Regions from separate parts of the Homo sapiens genome. Here region 2 is linked to region 1. The links come from fine-mapping of genetic effects on gene expression. A gene starts in region 1. The other region holds a variant in brackets. All regions are shown on one strand. Distances are from middle to middle.

Region 1 (9,260 bases):
TAGGCAGTGTGTGGTGGCATGGGCTGCTCAATTGATTATGCTAATAGTTACTTCTTGATTATATGCTAAACAAGGGGTGGATTATTCATGAGTTTTCTGGGAAAGGGGTGGGCAATTCCTGGGACTGAGGGTTCCTCCCCTTTTCAGACTGCATAAGGCAACTTTCTGACATTGCCTTGGCATCTGTAAAAGGTCATGGCAATGGTGGGAGTGTCTTTTAGCATGCTAATGCATTATAATTAGCGTATAATAAGCAATGAGGATGACCAGAGGTCACTCTCGTCACCATTTTGGTTTTGGTGGGTTTTGGCACGTTTCTTTAGCACAACCTTTATCAGCAAGGTCTTTGTGACCTCTGTCATACCCTGATCTCCAGTTTTATCCTGTGAGTAAGAATGCCCAACCTCCTGGGAATGCAGCCCAATAGGTCTCAGCCTTACTTTACTCAGCCCCTATTCAAGATGGAGTCATTCTGGTTCAAATGCCTCTGACAGTAAAGGTTAAGAAATCCTTCTTGGCCAGGTGCAGTGGCTCACGCCTGTAATCGCAGCGCTTTGGGAAGCCGAGGTGAGCAGATCACCTGAGGTCAGGAGTTTGAGATCAGGCGGGCTAACATGGTAAAACTCCGTTTCTACTAAAAATACAAAAAATTAGCCGGGTGTGGTGGCATGCACCTGTAATCCCAGCTACTTGGGAGGCTGAGGCAGAAGAATCGCTTGAACCCGGGCGGTGGAGGTTGCAGTGAGCCAAGATTGCGCCATTGCACTCCAGCTTGGGCAACAAGAGTGAAACTCCATCTCAAAAAAATAAATAAATAAAAAAAAAAGGCTGGGCGTGGTGGCTCACACCTGTAATCTCAGCACTTTGGGAGGCTGAGGCGGGTGGATCATGAGGTCAGGAGATCGAGTCCATCCTGGCTAACATGGTGAAACCCTGTCTCTACTAAAAATACAAAAAATTAGCCGGGCGAGGTGGTGGGCGCCTATAGTCCCAGCTACTTGGGAGGCTGAGGCAGGAGAATGTCATGGACCTGGGAGGCGGAGCTTGCAGTGAGCCAAGATTGTGCCACTGCACTCCAGCCTGGGTGACAGAGCGAGACTCCGTCTCAAAAAAAAAAAAAAAAAGGAAAAAGAAATCCTTGCTGGGCAAGGTGGCTCACACTTGTATTCCCAGCACTTTGTGAGGTGAAGGTGGGAGGATCACTTGAGTCCAGTAGTTCAAGACCAGCCCTGGCAACATAGCAAGACCCAGTCTCTACAAAAAATGAGAAAATTAGCCCGGCATGATGGCATGCACCTGTAGTCCCAGCTACTCAGGAGGCTGAGGTGGGAGGATCCCTGGAGCTCAGGAGGTTGAGTCTGCAGTGAGCTATGATCACTCCACTGTACTCTATCCTGGGTAACAGAGGGAGACCCCGTCTCAAAAAAAAAAAAAAAAAAAGATAAAGCAAAAAAGAGAAATCTTTCTTAACCTTTTTGTGCTTCAGAAAATGTTCACTACAAAGAAATACCCATTCTCATGTCACTTAAATGACTCCTGGTTGCCTCCCTTGTTTACTGTGGCAAGGTCAAACACAGTCCTTCTGAATTCCCATTCTTTGCCTCATAAATGATTACAGAGCTGCTTGTCTCCATTGACCAGTTGGAAAAAATGCTTATTAACCAAACTTGGGTTAAGCTTCTTTCCTTTCCCCAGGCTCCTTACTTTAACCTACTCTCAGCTTGAACTAGCATACTGTCTCATGTGTCCGTGTGAAGAGACTACCAAACAGGCTTTGTGTGAGCAACAAGGCTGTTTATTTCACCTGGGTGCAGGTGGGCTGAGTCCAAAAAGAGAGTCAGCAAAGGGTGGTGGGATTATCATTGGTTCTTATAGGTTTTGGGATAGGCGGTGGAGTTAAAAGCAATGTTTTGGGGGTAGGGGGTGGATCTCACAAAGTACATTCTCAAGGGTGGTGAGAATTACAAAGAAACTTCTTAAGGGTGGGGGAGACTATAAAAGAACCTTCTTAAGGGTGGGGGAGATTACAAAGTACATTGATCAGTTAGGGTGGGGCAGAAACAAATCACAATGGTGGAATGTCATCAGTTAAGGCTATTTTCACTTCTGCGGATCTTCAGTTGCTGCAAGCCATCTGGATGTATACGTGCAGGTCACTGGGGATATGATGGCTTAGCTTGGGCTCAGAGACTGACACACACAACCCCTACTGAGAATAGGTTGGCCTCAAGATAAAACATTCTCTAATCTACTATCTGATCAAGCCACCCCTTCATCCCACTTCCCATATTCGGTTGTTTCCAGCCTTGTTTACCTGCCTTTGGGGAGGGTGGGGGGTGGGGGAACCCTCTTTTTCCCTAACCATTGAAACATCTGCGGATGTTTTGGTCAGAGTGATCTCACTATTGCAATAGTCTCCCTCTGCTATTGCACGGTTCCTTCTCTCCCACCTCTCTCACTTCTTGCAGTAATCCTTTCTTTTTTTTTTTTTTTGAGACGGAGTCTCGCTCTGTCGCCCAGGCTGGAGTGCAGTGGTGGGATCTCGGCTCACTGCAAGCTCCGCCTCCCGGGTTCACGCCATTCTCCTGCCTCAGCCTCCCAAGTAGCTGGGACTACAGGCGCCCGCCACCACGCCCGGCTAATTTTTTTGTATTTTTAGTAGAGACGGGGTTTCACCGTTTTAGCCGGGATGGTCTCGATCTCCTGACCTCGTGATCCGCCCGCCTCGGCCTCCCAAAGTGCTGTGATTACAGGCGTGAGCCACCGCGCCGGGCCTGCAGTAATCCTTTCTAATAAGTATCCTTATTAGTCTGGATTTGTTTTCTTATTTGCCAGAATCAAACAAACTTCAGATTACGTTCCTGGCCCAAAAGCCCTTTAACTTTCAGCAAGCCACCTAACTTTTCTTAGATTCTGTTCTTTCATATATAACTTGGGGATATGTTTCAGGACTCTTGTGAGGATTAGAGATGTAAAACCCTGAAAACATGGTGGCTAGTTAATTAATAGCAGTCATCGCTCTTGTTGTTATGAGTCTAGAGTGGTATATCAGAGTTAATTTGTGAAAGGCCTTACAGGCCAGACAGAGAAACTTGTCATAATCACTGCTGTATCTTCAACACCTGTCCAGTGCTTTGCACGCGCAGAGTATCTAACCAAGTATTGAGAGGGAATAACTTTATCTCACTGACAGTGAGGAGCTGTGAGAATGATGGCTGGTTTAGAAAAGGCAGGTTGGTCACTGTCGACGTTCACTGGCCTTTTCCTACTAAAATTCTCATCTCCTGGCTCTCCACACCTGCCACCCTGATGGCCCCTGTGCTGCGTTTGATGCCGCCTCTCCTGGAGAATGACCATGGTGATCATTCCTGTCATCCTCTGAAATCAAAAGAGAGAACGTGGGCACTTTCTTAAAAGCCTGAAGGGAATGTAGACATTCCGACATCTGGTAAGGGAGACGCTCTCCATCGCTTCCCCCGGGGGCGTCACCGCCCCCTGATGCCCCGCCCTCCTCACGACTCAAGTTCCTCCCACTTAGCTCGGTGCTAGGGGCGCATTTCCCCGGCATGCCTCTGCTCCTTTGCGCACGCGCGCCGCTTCCCAGTGGCAAGCGCGGGCAGGACCGCGTTGCGTCATCGGGGCGCGCGCCTCAGAGAGAGCTGTGGTTGCCGGAAGTTGAGCGGCGGTAAGTGAGCCGCGGCGGGCGAGGGTGTAGTGGGGTCTTGCTGGGCCGGTTTTGGAGGCCTGGAGTCAAGGGGCGAGCTCGCCAGGGAGGGCGAGGGTCACAGCAAGTCTCAGGATCCTCCTCTGCCAGTTTCTGGGTGGTCCTTCCTCCTCCAGGGACTCACTGATTCCGGCTGGCGCCCTTCGTCTGTAGCCGCGTCCCCTCAGACTGGTTCAGTCCGGGGTCTTCTGACTTGGAAGCTCGTGCTGATTTCCTAAGTCAGCCCCTCCTGTCCTCTTGGTAGGCAGTGCTCAGAATCTTCAGTGTTGGAACACGGGAGATGGGACATTTGGATTCCCAGCCTGGCTGTGTCTGGATTTGCTGTCTCTGGCACGTTCCTTCCCCATCTAAGCTGCTTTTCCATCTGCAAAATGGGAATGATAATCCGCCATTTGTTTAAGTGAGGAGGTTAAATAAGTTTACTTTCTGAGAAAGAAGATTCTCGATTCCTTGGTTACAGGGTTAGAAACTAATGCACAATAAGAATCAATCCGGTAAGGTAAATATAGGTGTTAGAACATTTGTCAGAAATAGAGTCAAACTTCTAATTTTATAAGTACAGTACTAACGTACATGATGTTGGAGAAGTACAAGCCAAACCGTGTGTGTGTGCACGTGCGTGCAGTTTCCTGATTTTTAAACACTGGCGACTGATGCCATTTTTTAAAAATTGGCAAGTAATTCTGGCGTTTAAAAACATTGGCAACTCAGTTTTTACAAAACCCTGTTCAACTGTAACCAGTCATATCTGTGGCTGTCAGTTTGGGACCTCTGGATCCCAGACTCCCTTTTTCATTGACTACTTAGATTTTTTTCTCTGACACCTCTGCCCACTGGCCAGATTTCTTCAGTGACAGAAAGCTTTCTACTTCTGGTTGCTCCTGTTTGGTCCTCCCCCAGTTCTGACTCTTAGGTTGAGCTGAAAGCAGCTACTCGGTAATCTTAGCTCACTGTTCCTCCTTCAGGCTCTTGGAATCACCCCTGCATTTAATTGCCCTATACATCATTGAAAGCTGCTAGTTTGTCTTCCTCTTCTCACCTTTTCTTCTCTAGGCTAAGCATATTTAATGTATTTGCTCATAGTAAACTTAACAGTGACAGCAAATTTTGTCATGTTTTGTTATATCCCCAGCATATAGAGCAATGCCTAGCATATTATATATGCTCAATAAATATTTGTTGGATGAATGAATAAAACAAATATTTGCCTGTTATGTGCCTGGCATTATTGTGGGCACTGGTGATCTATCAGTAAAATAAGAAGAAAAAGAACCCTGTTTCATGGCACCTTCTAATAATAGTGGTGGTGGTGGCGGTGGCGGCATTGTCAGTAAGGGTTGGTAGGTGTTTCCGATTCTGAAACGTACAGGGTCATGGGATGGACAGTAATTGGGGGGAAGCATAAAAGCTAGCTAGTCAGGGATGGCTTCCCTGAGGAAGTGACCTAACACTTGAATAAAGAAAAGTCCAGTCTTGGAATGGCTCATGTTGCTAAACTGCTTTCCCATCCCCCAACGCTGCTCCAGTCTTGTTAAGCTGCTTGCAGGTGTGTGTCACCTATAGCCCTTTGCTTCTGCTGCTTCGAACATCTCCCCTTCCTCTTCCATTTATCTTGGCCAACTCCTTCCTGCCCTCATGTGACATGATTTTGAAATCCTTTAAGAGCTGAGTACTGGACTTTCCATTACTCAACCACAGGTTCCGTTTTTCGTTCCCAGCCAGCATCTCATTATAGAGAATAAACATTTATTGAGCTTCAGCTGTGTGTCTGGCACTGCGCTGCAAGCTGGGAATACAAAAATGAGTAAGATACACATCCCTGTCCTCAAAGAGTTTACTTTTTTTTTAAGCCAAGGAGATAGCAACGGTATGGCATGAAGCTATTGCGGAGGTTTGGTAGAGGAGGACTTAGGGTACGCATAAGTCAGGCTGACTCATCAGAGAAGGTTTCAGTGAGGAGGTGCTGCTTTAGCCAAGACCTGAAGGACGAACGAGATCTGACAGGTGAAGAGTGGTTCGAAGTGAGATGAGCAAAGGGCTAGAGGTGAGAATGCATGGCCTGCTTGTGGTTCACTGGAGTGCCAGTGTGGAGGTGTAGGATGAGAGGTGACTGGAAAGGTAAGCACTAGCCACATCGTGAAGGGCCCTGTGGACAATAGCATGTTACCCGCACATAGACTTTGGGATCCAAGATAGCTGCGTACCAATATTCCCATTGCCACTGAACTAGTTTTGTGACCCTGGGCAAGTCACTTCTTTCTAAGCTTCAGTTTCCTCATCTCTAAGAAGGGGAAATAAAAACTGTACGAGGTGATATGTTACTCACTTGACACTGGTAGATGATAAATACTCAATAAACAGTAGTCATTAATATTGCCAGGCCCAGAAGTTTGGACTCTAAAATGTGGGGGCGGGGGTGGAGAGCAGGACACTGAAGATTTTAAAACAGATGCGACATCCTCTCATCTGTTTTAAATTACCCAGGCAGCAATGTGGTGATTACACTGGACAGAAAAAGACAAGCAGGGGACCAGTTGGGTATAGTTGCAGTGATCCAGGTGACAGGATGAAGATCTGGATGAAGGCAGTGACAGTGGAGATGGAGAGGAGTGGGAGGAGTTGAGAGATTAAGGAGGTGGAATTTGCTGGACTTGGTAACTGATAGGATGAAACAGAAGAAGGGGACAAGAATCAGGATCCTGATGACGGGAGGGCAGAAATGAATTTGCTGTGTGGAATTGAGCAGTAACAAAATTCTTTGACTAGTGTCTCTAATAGATTAACCCTGACCTCTGATTTTATTTGGAATTCAGTTTGCCTCTGTCGTCCACTTCTACCCATGGAAATGACGTTCGCTAATGTCTTCCTCTCCTCTTTTTTTTTTTTTCTTTTTTTTTGAGATGGAGTCTCACTCTGTCGCCCAGGCTGGAGTGCAGTGGCACGATCTCGGCTCACTGCAAGCTCTGCCTCCTGGGTTCACTCCATACTCCTGCCTCAGCCTCCCCAGGAACTGGGACTACAGGTGCCCACCACCATGCCCGGCTAATTTTTTTTTTTTTTTTTTTTTTTTAGTAGAGATGGGGTTTCACTGTGCTAGCCAGGATGGTCTCCATCTCCTGACCTCGTGATCCGCCTGCCTCAGCCTCTCAAAGTGCTGAGATTACAGGCGTGAGCCACCGCTTCCTCTCCCCTTTCTATCTCCTGATCTCCCCACCCTTCTCCAGTGCGATTAAGGCCTGATTGTATAATCAAGGGACAATAAATACTGGAGGTGCTGCTCTGTTAATTGGTAGTCAGTAGGTATTACCATGATCTTGGCAGACTGAGGAATAGCCTATTCACTCCATCTCAGACCGGCTTCAGAATGATCACTTTTGGGATTTCCTCACACCTTCATCCCAGTTACCATCCTTGAACTTGCTCTGGTTTGTCAGCCTCTCTTTGAGTGTGTGGTACAGAAAGGAAATCCTCTTTCCTTGAGGACTCTAACCATGCAGAGCAAGACTGCACTTTTCTTGTGGTAACCTAAAGCCCTGCCAGCTCCATTATAGACACATTGTGCTTTTGACACTATTACACTAGTGTGCCACCAAATAGGCCCTCAGCGTGGCTCAGCCCTCCCCATATCCTCAGGCAGCTCTCTTGTCCATTTCCCTTTATGTCTTCCTCATATTCATTCCTCTCCTCAACCTCCTACCTTGACTTTTGCTCCACTAAGTTGCAGCCATTAATTAAGGCATCGCAGCTTCCTCTTCTATCCTTTACCAACTGATCTTTAGCTGACCCTATCCTTTTGCCTTTTATTCTAATTCTGTGAAAGAAATGGTGTTTTAAGACTAAGTCCTCTATTTGTGCTTGAGATCCCATCGCCTCCTTTGCCTCAAGGACTGGGTTCCATCATTTGTTCATTTTCTTTTCTGTTTCATCAACCCTTCTCATTTAAATATTCTCTGTTTACTCTCATTTTGGAAAAAACAAAAACCCTCCAATTAACCTATGCTGCACCCTGTCACACCTCTTTTACCCAGCCACCTTTCTTGGAAGAGTTATCTAGAGTTGCTTCCTGTACTTCCCTAAGTCATTGCTAAAATCCTGCTCTCGTCCCACCACTCCCCAAAGTCATCAGACCTCGACATTGCCAGAATACCTGACCACTTTTCCTTCTTATCTTTCTTGGCACATCTGACATTGCTGACCTTGCCCCTCACTTAGGAAAACCCAGTCCTACTTTGTATTATCTCTCTGGCCATTTGTCCCTCAATTTCCATTGTGGGCTCCTTTCTTCCCCTTTGTCCCTCACATGCCAATTTTTGCCAAGACTCTGCCCTCTACTATATTCTTTTCAACCGCAGCTTCAAACTTGTTTATATGCTCATGACCCCTGTTCTGTATCATAGCCCGAATCTCTCCTGAGTGCTACCCTCAAACTCAAACAAGTCTAAAACTAAGCTCCTCATCTTCCCTTTGAACCTGCCGTTCTTTCTCCATTCTTGAATCTTGCCAATTCCTCTCCTTTCATTTAGTCATCCAAAACAGAACCCTGAGAGTCATCTCAGACTCTTCCTCTGGTACTAGCCCTCCTTTCCATCTTCCAAGTCCAGGTAGTCATCAGAGTTCTATAGATTCGACTTTGTTGCTATCTCCTGACTCACATCTCCTCCATTTCCTCCCTTGCTCCCTCATTTCAGGCTCCCCTCCCTTTTTGCCTGTCTTTCTGCACAGCCTCCCAGCTGGTTGCCCTGCCTCAGCAGTCTGGTCCTCACTGCTGTGGATTGCCTTTACTAAAATAGAGATCTATGCAGAAATACAGTTGCATAGCTTTTCACATAAGGCTCTTCATGATATGGCCTTTGCCTGCTTTTATGGCATGGTCCATCTACTCTGCCCCATGTGCCTCTCCTTGCTGCCATACAGAACTCTATCAGGGGAACCTGCCCCCAATATTTCAAGGTATGTTCTTTCTATTTTCCATAAGTGTCAGCTGGCTGAGAAATAAAGAGAAAGAGTACAAAGAGAGGAATTTTACAGCTGGGCCTCTGGGGGTGACATCACATATTGGTAGGACTGTGATGCCGACCCGAGCTGCAAAACCAGCAGGTTTTTATTAAGGACTTCAAAAGGGGAGGGGGTGTGCGAACAGGGAGTGGGTCACAAAGATCACATGCTTCTGAGGAAACAGGACAAGGACAAAATCAGAAACTCCTGATAAGGGTCTATGTTCAGCAGTGTATGTATTGTCTTGATAAACATCTTAAACAACAGAAAACAGGGTTCGAGAGCAGAGAACTGGTCTGACCTCAAATTTACCAGGGTGGGGTTTCCCAATCCTAGTAAGCTTGAGGGTACTGCAGGAGAACAGGGCATATTTCAGTCCTTATCTCAACTGCGTAAGACAGACACTCCCAGAGCGGCCCTTTATAGACCCCCCCCCCCCCACCAGGAATGCATTCCTTTCCCAGGGTCTTAATTATTAATATTTCTTGCTAGGAAAAGAATTTAGTGATATCTTCCCTACTTGCACGTCTGTTTATAGGCT
Region 2 (9,260 bases), 50 kb before region 1:
CAGTCTCCTGAGTAGCTGGGATTATAGCGTGGGCCACCACGCCCAGCTAATTTTTTGTATTTTTCATAGAGATGGGGTTTCACCATGTTGCCCAGGCTGGTCTCAAACTCCTGACCTCAGGTGATCTGCCCGCCTCGGCCTCCCAAAGTGCTGGGATTACAGGCGTGAGCCACTGTGCCCAGCCTTGTTTATTTACTTATTTATTTATTTATTTTTGGAGACAGAGTCTTGCTCTGTTGCCCAGGCTGGAGTGCCGTGGCGTGATCTCGGCTCACTGCAACCTCCACCTCCTAGGTTCAAGCAATTTTCCTGCCTCAGCCTCTGAGTAGCTGGGATTACAGGCATAAGCTACCATGCCCAGCTAATTTTTTGTATTTTTAGTAGAGACAGGGTTTCACTATGTTGGCCAGGCTGGTCTTGAACTCCTGACCTCGTGATCCACCCACCTCAGCCTCTTAAAGTGCTGGGATTACAGGAGTGAGCGACCGCGCCTGGCCTAAATTTTCTTATAAATTCATATTGCCATGTCTAAATACCTCAGGGAGCAGTGACTCCAGAAAACCATACAAACCTAGCACATGAATTAATGGATTATTATAAGAATTCTGGAGATGGATGGTGGCGATGAGTTCATGGTTGCGTGGTTGTGAATGTAGTTAGTATCATTGAACTGTGCATGTAAAATGGTTAAAGTGGTAAGTGTTTTAGTGTAGGTATTTTGCCACAGTTAAAAATAAATAGGCTGGGCACGGTGGCTCATGCCTGTAATCCCAGCACTTTGGGAGGCCGAGGCGGGCGGAGCACGAGGTCAGGAGTTCAAAACCAGCCTGGCCAACATAGTGAAACCCCCGTCTCTACTAAAAATACAAAAATTAGCTGGGAATGGTGGTGTGTGCCTGCAGTCCTAGCTACTTGGGAGGCTGAAGCAGGAGAATCGCTTGGACCCGGGAGGTGGAGCTTGCAGTGAACTGAGTTTATGCCACTGCACTCCAGCTCGGGCAATAAGAGTTGAGACTTCATCTCAAAAAAAAAAAAAAAAAAAAGGAAAGAAAATTTAATTTAATGTGTAACAATTCAATCAATGCACTGGTATCTGCTGCAAGACACGTCCATTCAGTCTACCCTGAATTCCCAGGAAGATTTCTTCCTAAGATGACCTTAAATTGACAAATCCTTTAATGTTAGACCTTGTCAAAATGCTTTAAGGAGCTGTTTAGTTTCTTTCTTATTTATTTTAATTGTGGTAACTTAATGTGTTGTTTTTTTTTTTTTTTTTTTTACAATAAATTTTTCTGAAAAAGGAAGGAAGTATTGGCTACAAACAGAGTAGTCACGCAGACCAAGGTTAAAATCCAGATTCTGCCTTTTGTTAGCTCCGTGACTTTTGGCAAATTACTTAAGCTCTCTAAGACTCAATTAGTAATCTGGAAAAGTAATTGTAATAGTAATTACCTCCTAGCATTGTGGTGGGACTTTAATAAAACAATACCTATCAATCCCCTAACACCACGCCTGGCCTGGGGTAACTGCTATATATGTTAGTTGTTTCGTTCCAAAAAGAATTGGACCTGGGTCTAAGAAACCCCAAGTGCCACTGTCAGCTCCAACCCTGACTTGCTGTATAGTCTTGGTAAAGCCGCCTGTCTCTGAGGCCGGTTACCTCATCACTGTCCTGAGAATCCCTGTCCTCTGTGAGAACAGTACTGCTGAGGTGCAGTGTCCTGTTTGTTGGTATGCAAGGGGCTTAGGAATGAGGCTGCCGGTGCTTGGGTTTCCTACAACCCAGTGCAGAGCCTGCAGCCACTCCAGCAGGCAACTAGCAAGAGGCGGTGTGGAGCTGCAGGGCTGCCCATGCACACCGGCAGGTGAAAATGCACCTTAGACACACAGCTGAGACGGTAAATTGGTTTCCGTCATCCTGTGCAGGGAAGATCATGCTGGTTTTACCCTTCTTGTTGGGCTGCCTCTTGTAAACCTTGTTTGCCCTCCTTTATCGGGCTGCGCTGAACTTAAAGAACAGACAAGTTGAGGTTCATTATAGCAACCCCAGGGAAGGGTGGCCTACCTCTCAAAGATTCACTTTTTCCCCCTGCATTTCTCTGTTTTATATAAGTAAAATAATAATGTACACATTATTTTGCTGCATTTCATGATTTTATGATTGTTCTATGTCAATAACAAAAAAAGAAAACCAATCACAGAGACAGTCAGTTTTATTCAGAATCCTGCTTCCCCAGGGGCATAAAAGAGACGAATCCCCAATTCTTTAACTGAGATGAGAAGGAGAAATCAAGTTCAATGTTAAATAGACTCTCTGGAGTCACTACCCCCAAAGTATCTGGGCGTGGGAATATGAGTTTATAAGAAAATTTGGTTTAAAGTGTAACAACTCAATCAATGCTGTCTACCACAAGACACCTCCATTCAGTCTACCATGAATTCCCAGGAGGATTTCTTCTTAAGATGCCCTTAAGTTGACAAATCCTTTAATGTTAGACCTTGTCAAAGTGCTTTAAGGAGCTGTTTAGTTTCTCATTTATTTATTTATTTTTAATTGTGGTAAAATATCTGTAACACGGGGCCAGGTGCAGTGGCTCATGCCTATAATCCTAGCACTTTGGGAGGCCGAGGTGGGTGGATTGCCTGGGCTCAGGAGTTTAAGACCAGCCTGGGCAACACGGTGAAACCCTGTCTCTACTAAAATACAAAAAAAATTAGCCGGCCATGGCAGCATGCACCTGTAATCCCAGCTACTTGGGAGGCTGAGGCAGGAGAATCGCTTGAACCCAGGAGGCAGAGGTTGCAGTGAGCCGAGATCACGCCATTGCACTCCAGCCTGGGCAACGGAGCGAGACTCCATCTCAAAAAAAAAAAAATGTATATATATATATCCATAATACTTACGAGTTTAACCATTTTATATGCACGGTTCAGTGACACTAACTACATTCACAACCATGCAATCATGTGCCCATCACCACCCATCACCACCATCCACCTCCAGAACTCTTCACTTTGCAAAACTGAAATTCTGTACCCATTAAACACTAACTCCCCTTTCCTCCTTCCCGCAGCCCCCGGCAGCCACCATTCCACTTTTTATCTCTATGAATTTGATGGCTCTAGGGACTTTATATAAGTGGAATCATGCAGTATTTCTCTTTCTCTGATTGGCATATTTTACTTAGCAGAATGTCCTCAAGGTTCATCCAGGTGATACCACGTGCCAGATGCCCTTCCTTTTTTAAGGCTTAAAAATATTCCATGGTATGTGAGGACCACATTCTGTTTCCCCATTCATCTGCTGATGGACATGTGGGTTGCTTCCACCTTCTGGTTATTGTGAATAATGCTGCTATGAACATGAGTATATCAGTTTCTCTTTAAAAGTGTCCAGTAATCCTTTATTCCAGTGATGGTGTAGTTGTTCAGATTGTACAGGGGAGCATCTCGGCTAGATACCAGTAGTCACTTAATAGCTCTCTTGAACACCCACAGTCAGGAACTGGGTAAATAGCAAGGTGGCAGGAGGCACAGGACGGGGTGGGAGTGAGGGTGGGTGCAGCCACAGCTGGAAGTGTGCACAGCTGGAACTTCCCAGCATTGAGCAGGTCCTCATGGGAACAATTTATGAAAACTATGATTATTTTTCCATTTCCTAGACTCTGTGATTGTTTTCACAAGAAGCTAAGTGGTTTCTGTGTGATTATATATCCCAGGTGTTGTGTGGAATTTTAACTCAAATACCAAAATCTAGGGCGATTTGCCTATCACGCATCCATTTATTCCACTTCCTCCAGCAAGTTCACAGCACTATGTAAAATGCTTAGAACCAGTGGAGGTTTTTGTGAGTTCTGGAAAACAAGAGGAGGGAAAAATCAATGGAGAAAAGCAGGAGTGAAGCAGATAGCCACTGAGAAGAAGAAGATGGCAGGCTGACGGGAAAGTACAGCGGCCGAGTGTCTGCTGGCGAGCTGTGCGTCAGGGCCCACTTGCACAAATAGTAAGGCAGAACTAGTGGCCCCCTAGACCCAGGGGGCGTTTAGAGGTCCTGGGAAACATAAACTCTCCATCCTAAGACAACACTACACCCTCCCACTCCTAATCAAGGCCCTTACATTCCACCATTCAAGCGCATTAAATAATAGTTGTCCAAATGTGTGGTAAAGGATTTTCTCTTTTCAGAGCCACTCTTTTAAAATGCAGACGCTCCAGCCGGGCGCGGTGGCTCACGCCTGTAATCCTAGCACTTTGGGAGGCCAAGGCAGGCGGATCATGAGGTCAAGAGATCAAGACTATCCTGGCCAACATGGTGAAACCCCACCTCTACTAAAAATACAAAAATTAGCTGGGC[A/G]TGGTGGCGCGTGCCTGTAGTCCCAGCTACTCAGGAAGCTGCGGCAGGAGAATCGCTTGAATCCAGGAGGCAGAGGTTGCAGTGAGTCGAGATCGCACCATCACACTCCAGCCTGGCGACAAAGCGAGACTTCGTCTCAAAAAAAAAAAAAAAAAAAAAAAAAAAAGTCCAGGCACAGTGGCTCATGCCTGTAATCCCAGCACTTTGGGAGACTGAGGCAGGTGGACCACAAGGTTAGGAGATCGAGACCATCCTGGCTAACATGGTGAAACCCCATCTCTACTAAAAATACAAAAAAAAAAAATCAGCCGGGGGTGGTGGCGGGCGCCTGTAGTCCCAGCCACTCGAGAGGCTGAGGCAGGAGCATGGTGTGAACCCAGGAGGCGGAGCTTGCAGTGAGCAGAGATGGCGCCACTGCGCTCCAGCCTGGGCGACAGAGCGAGACTCCATCTCAAAAAAAAAAAATGTGGACGCTCCTTACAGAGCTCTCCGAATTTCAACACCCTTTAGAGTTCCTCCAGCTTGACTGTTCTCTAGCTGCTCTGAGGGGCCTCTGGGGAGTGTGGGGCAAAGAGGGGGAGTCAAGTAGACAGGGCTCTGGGTTCCCCCACTCCACTCCAGCTACAGCAGCAAGCTGCTTCTGTCTTATATAAATTGTTACATAAACCAGTAGTTGCGCTACCAAGAAAAGGGGGAAAGGGAAATGTTTGAAAAATCCCTAATCTTGAGCAACCCCCTTGTTTAACAGAGGAGGCCTGGAGAAGTTGAGAGAAGGGTTCAGCGTCACACAGCAAATTCATTCAACAAATATTTTCTACTGTGCCAAACACACAGTAAACAAAGATGAGCACACAAATCCTTGCCCTGAAGACTGGGCCCTTCTCTCCAGGATGACTCTTCCGCAGCCTTGAGGGGACACAGAGGGCACTGTCAGCAAGGAGGAGGATGGCCTTTCCCCATGACATGTTCCAGCCACATCATCCTGACACCCCAAATATGATTGAGGCCATCTCTCCTGTGCATGCAAAAGAGAACACACATTTGTTCTCTTTAGTGTATTGTGCCTCAACCATCTCATTTCACTCTTTCTGAAGCCGTGCAATGTGCATGCCTACCATGTGCCAAGCAGTTCTAGCATGTGAGGCTGAATAAGACGTGGCCTCTGCTCCCATGGATCTTCCAGCCAAACAGGGGAGAGAAAAGCTCTGCATAAATGATCACAGTACAGAGTCAGCTCTACACACTGATAGCTTATCAGCCTTGGAGTCTGGGTCAGGGAAAGAAGAGATACATCTAGCTAGGGGAGGAAGCATTAGAATAGGGCCTCACTTCTCTTTCCAAATTTCGGGTTAAGAAATTGGATGTTGGAGGGCCGGGCGCGGTGGCTCACGCCTGTAATCCCAGCACTTTGGGAGGCCGCGGCAGGCGGATCATGAGTTCAGGATATCGAGACCATCCTGGCTAACACGGTGAAACCCGGTCTCTACTAAAAAATACAAAAAAAATTAGCCGAGCATGGTGGTGGGCACCTGTAGTCCCAGCTACTCGGGAGGCTGAGGCAGGAGAATGGCGTGAACCCAGGAGGCGGAGCTTGCAGCGAGCCGAGTATGCGCCACTGCACTCCAGCCTGGGCGACTGAGCGAGACTCCATCTCAAAAAAAAAAAAAAAAAGAAATTGGATGTTGGAGTCAGGCAGCCCTTGCTTTCAAGCCCAGTGGGCCTCATAACTGTGAGGTTGGACCAGGGGCATAGGTTCCCAGAGCCTCATCTGAAAAATGGGGGTGATAATTACAGTTCCCACTTCCAAAGGTTGCTGTGGGGATTGAATGAGATAACACAGGTCCAATTCTTATCCTCGATAAATATGCCCCTTATTTAAGGACTTTAGGGATGAGGTGAAGATGAGACAGAAGCTCTTCAAAGGCTCTACCCAGGCAGGGAGAAGAGAGGGGAAAGTAGGCAACGTCAAAGTGGATGCTCCACTGCGGCTGCTAAGAGCCACTCACAGGAGGAGTGCTGGGAAGTGCCACAGGAAAGGGGGAGCAGGGCCAGGAGACCAAGGGACCCCTTCAAAGCCAAACTGAGGACTTGGGCCCCTGGAACTCATTTGTGAGTTCTAAAAATTTTCTTGTAGATTCCCCAGGATTTTCTACAAACAAGACCATGTTATCTTCAAATAGTTTCACTTCTTTCCTTCAAGTCTGGATGCCTTCATTTCCTTTTCTTGCCTAATCGCTTGGCTTCTTTTAACTCCTTTTATTTTTGACAATGTGAGAACCAGGCCTGGCCGGCTGGAGTCGGAGAGAGGGACAGACTGCTCTCTGGAAGGCTGGCCAGACACGGGAAGATATGTAGGCCTAGTCAGGCGACTGCCAGGGCAGATCTCTCAAACTCTGATCTGGCAGGCACTCCAGGTAGCCCCGAGGGATGATCAGGGAAGAGGAGACAGGTGAATGCCTCTTTGGAGCACTCAGTGACGGGAACATATTTCTGGAGCATTCAGTAACTTCATTAAGCACCTCCCCACTTCTTGGCTCTGAGGACACAGAGATGACTCAGACCCACATGTGACACCCACAGTCTAGTGAAAAAAGTCTGATCAGTAATTAAGGAATTACAACCTAGCTTTATTATTTATTTATTTACTTACTTACTTTTGAGACGGAGTCTCGCTCTGTCGCCCAGGCTGGAGTGCAGTGGCACGATCTCGGCTCACTTCAACCTCTGCCTCCCGGGTTCAGGCGACTCACATGCCTCAGTCTCCCAAGTGCTGGGATTACAGGCATGAGCCACCGCACCCGACCACAACCCAGCTTTATAAGGGTTGTAATTGAGGTCTGTGCAGAGTTCAGCGAAGCCCTGGAGAAGGAAGTGAATTAACCCAGCCCAGAGGGACGGATGAATGACTAAAAGGAAGTGACATCAGAACTGGGTTGTAAAGAACTAACTGAATGTCTTGCCAGGGTAAGAGGATGAGAACAGGCATTCCCGGCAGGAGAGCAGCATTTGTAAAGGTATGGGGTGTACACGAGCAGGGCCTATTTGGGGAGAGTGGAGAATCAGAGATGAGGCTGCACAGTAAGGTGAGACCAGGTGGAAAAAGCTCTGTGTGATGGGTCGAAGGTATTGACATATACTAGCCACTGCCCGGCACCCTCCCTCCGTTTCCGGAGTAGACCTGTTTGCTTATCTCGTGGGCATTTGCCAGGCTGATTAGAGTAATGAGTAAAGAAAAGAGGGCACTGGGAAAGCTAAGTTCATTTATATTAGAAATTACATGATACTCTTCCATAAATCAGAAAGATTGAAGAGTGGGTGAAAGAAGGGAAAAGGGAATTAAAGGGGAACCAAGGCAACCTGAAGTTTTTGAGAGAGAGAGCAGGAAGATTTGAGGATGAGCAGGTGATGCTGTAGCTGGCGCTATGTAGCGACAGATGGGAGAAGTTCTTTGTGATGGTTTTGCCTCTTTGAGAGTCTTCAGTAAAGGTTGAAGTTACTTTTCCATATCGTTTTATTTTCTGGATGTTGGACTTGAATTTCTTTTTAATGTGATCATGGGGCCAGGCGTGGTGACTTATGCCTGTAATCCCAGCACTTTGGGAGGCTGACGCGGGTGGATCACTTGAGGTCAGGAGTTGGAGACCAGCCTGGCCAACATGGTGAAACCCCGTCTCTACTAAAAATACAAAAAAATAGCCAGGTGTCATGGTGGGTGCCTGTAATCCCAGCTACTCAGGAGGCTGAGGCACGAGAATCACTTGAACCTGGGAGGCAGAGGTCGTAGTGAGCCGAGATGGCACCATTGCACTACAACCTGGGTGACAGAGCAAGACTCAGTCTAAAAAAAAAAAAAAAAAAGAAGATACCATGTGTAGACTTTATTTGGGTTGTTACCCTTGTATCACACATGTGGGGCCAGGGTGCTTCTGTATATCCTGACAACAGTGGCCAGCCATTAAAGAGTTTTGAGTAGGGGAACTGGATTTGTGGTTTTAGAAAGATCATTTGGCTTCTGTGTGAAAGAGGCCAAAACCAGGAGCAGAAAGACCAGTTAGGAAGCTGTGACAGCAGTTGAGAGACGATGTTGTCAAAGTCTGCAGCAGAACAGAACAGGGGTGACCCCACATGGACATCATCTCTGCTCTTCAGTCACCTGTAGTGCAGAGTTTTGAAGTAGGTCTGAGCATGGAACCGTAGTGGTTGGGAAGGAAATGCCATTTGCCTATGGGGTGATTAAGATCTTTTTTTTTTTTTTTCCTCAGGCGGAGTCTCGCTCTGTCCCCCAGGCTGGAGTGCCGTGACGTGATATCAGCTCACTGCAGCCTCCGCCTCCCTGGTTCAAGCAATTCTCCTGCCTCAGCCTCCCAAGTAACTGAGATTACAGGCGCCCGCCACCACGCCTGGCTAATTTTTGTATTTTTAGTGGAGACGAGGTTTCCCCATGTTGTCCAGGCTGGTCTCAAACTCCTGACCTAGGTGATCTGCCCACCTCAGCCTCCCAAAGTGCTGGGATTACAGACGTGAGCCACCACGCCCGGCCTTACCTTTTCATTATGTAAATACACACCCAGAAGGAGGCCTGTCTGAGCTGCACAGGACTCTGGTCTGCACCTGAGCATCTTCCTTTCACTTCTGGAGTGCTTGAAGAGATCTAGACAAGACCACTTTCTTTGTGGTTTCTTGACTTGCCCACACCCCCTAGGAACTTCCTCTCTCTGAGAGTGAATAGAGTCTGTCCTTAGATAGCACTTGCCTGAGGAAGCAGCCAGAAGTAAGATTTGCTATCAGTTACTAGGGAAATGATTGCTGTTGGAGCTGGCCAATTAATCAGCAGGACAGAAAGTTCTTGGATGAACTAGGACAGGCCCCAGCCATCCCTAAGGCATATCAAAAACGAGGGGAGAAT

Evidence for each region. PIP is the estimated chance that this variant, and not a neighbour inherited with it, causes the effect.
Region 2: its variant is fine-mapped to the expression of ATG7 in skeletal muscle (GTEx, PIP above 0.99).

Annotation. Positions count from the first base shown.
Region 1 is chr3:11,268,746-11,278,005 of GRCh38, forward strand. ATG7 (autophagy related 7) reads left to right here and starts at 3,652. Exons shown (of 21, transcript NM_001349232.2): 1 at 3,652-3,685. RefSeq lists enhancers at 3,250-3,299, 3,256-3,847, 3,570-3,699, 3,848-4,437.
Region 2 is chr3:11,218,692-11,227,951 of GRCh38, forward strand. All of the region lies in intron 1 of HRH1 (histamine receptor H1), which reads left to right. It overlaps LOC102723663 (a long non-coding RNA gene), which reads right to left and starts at 7,227. Exons shown (of 4, transcript XR_001740596.2): 1 at 7,009-7,227. RefSeq lists an enhancer at 7,112-7,406. The variant A/G (reference allele first, on the strand shown) is at 4,355.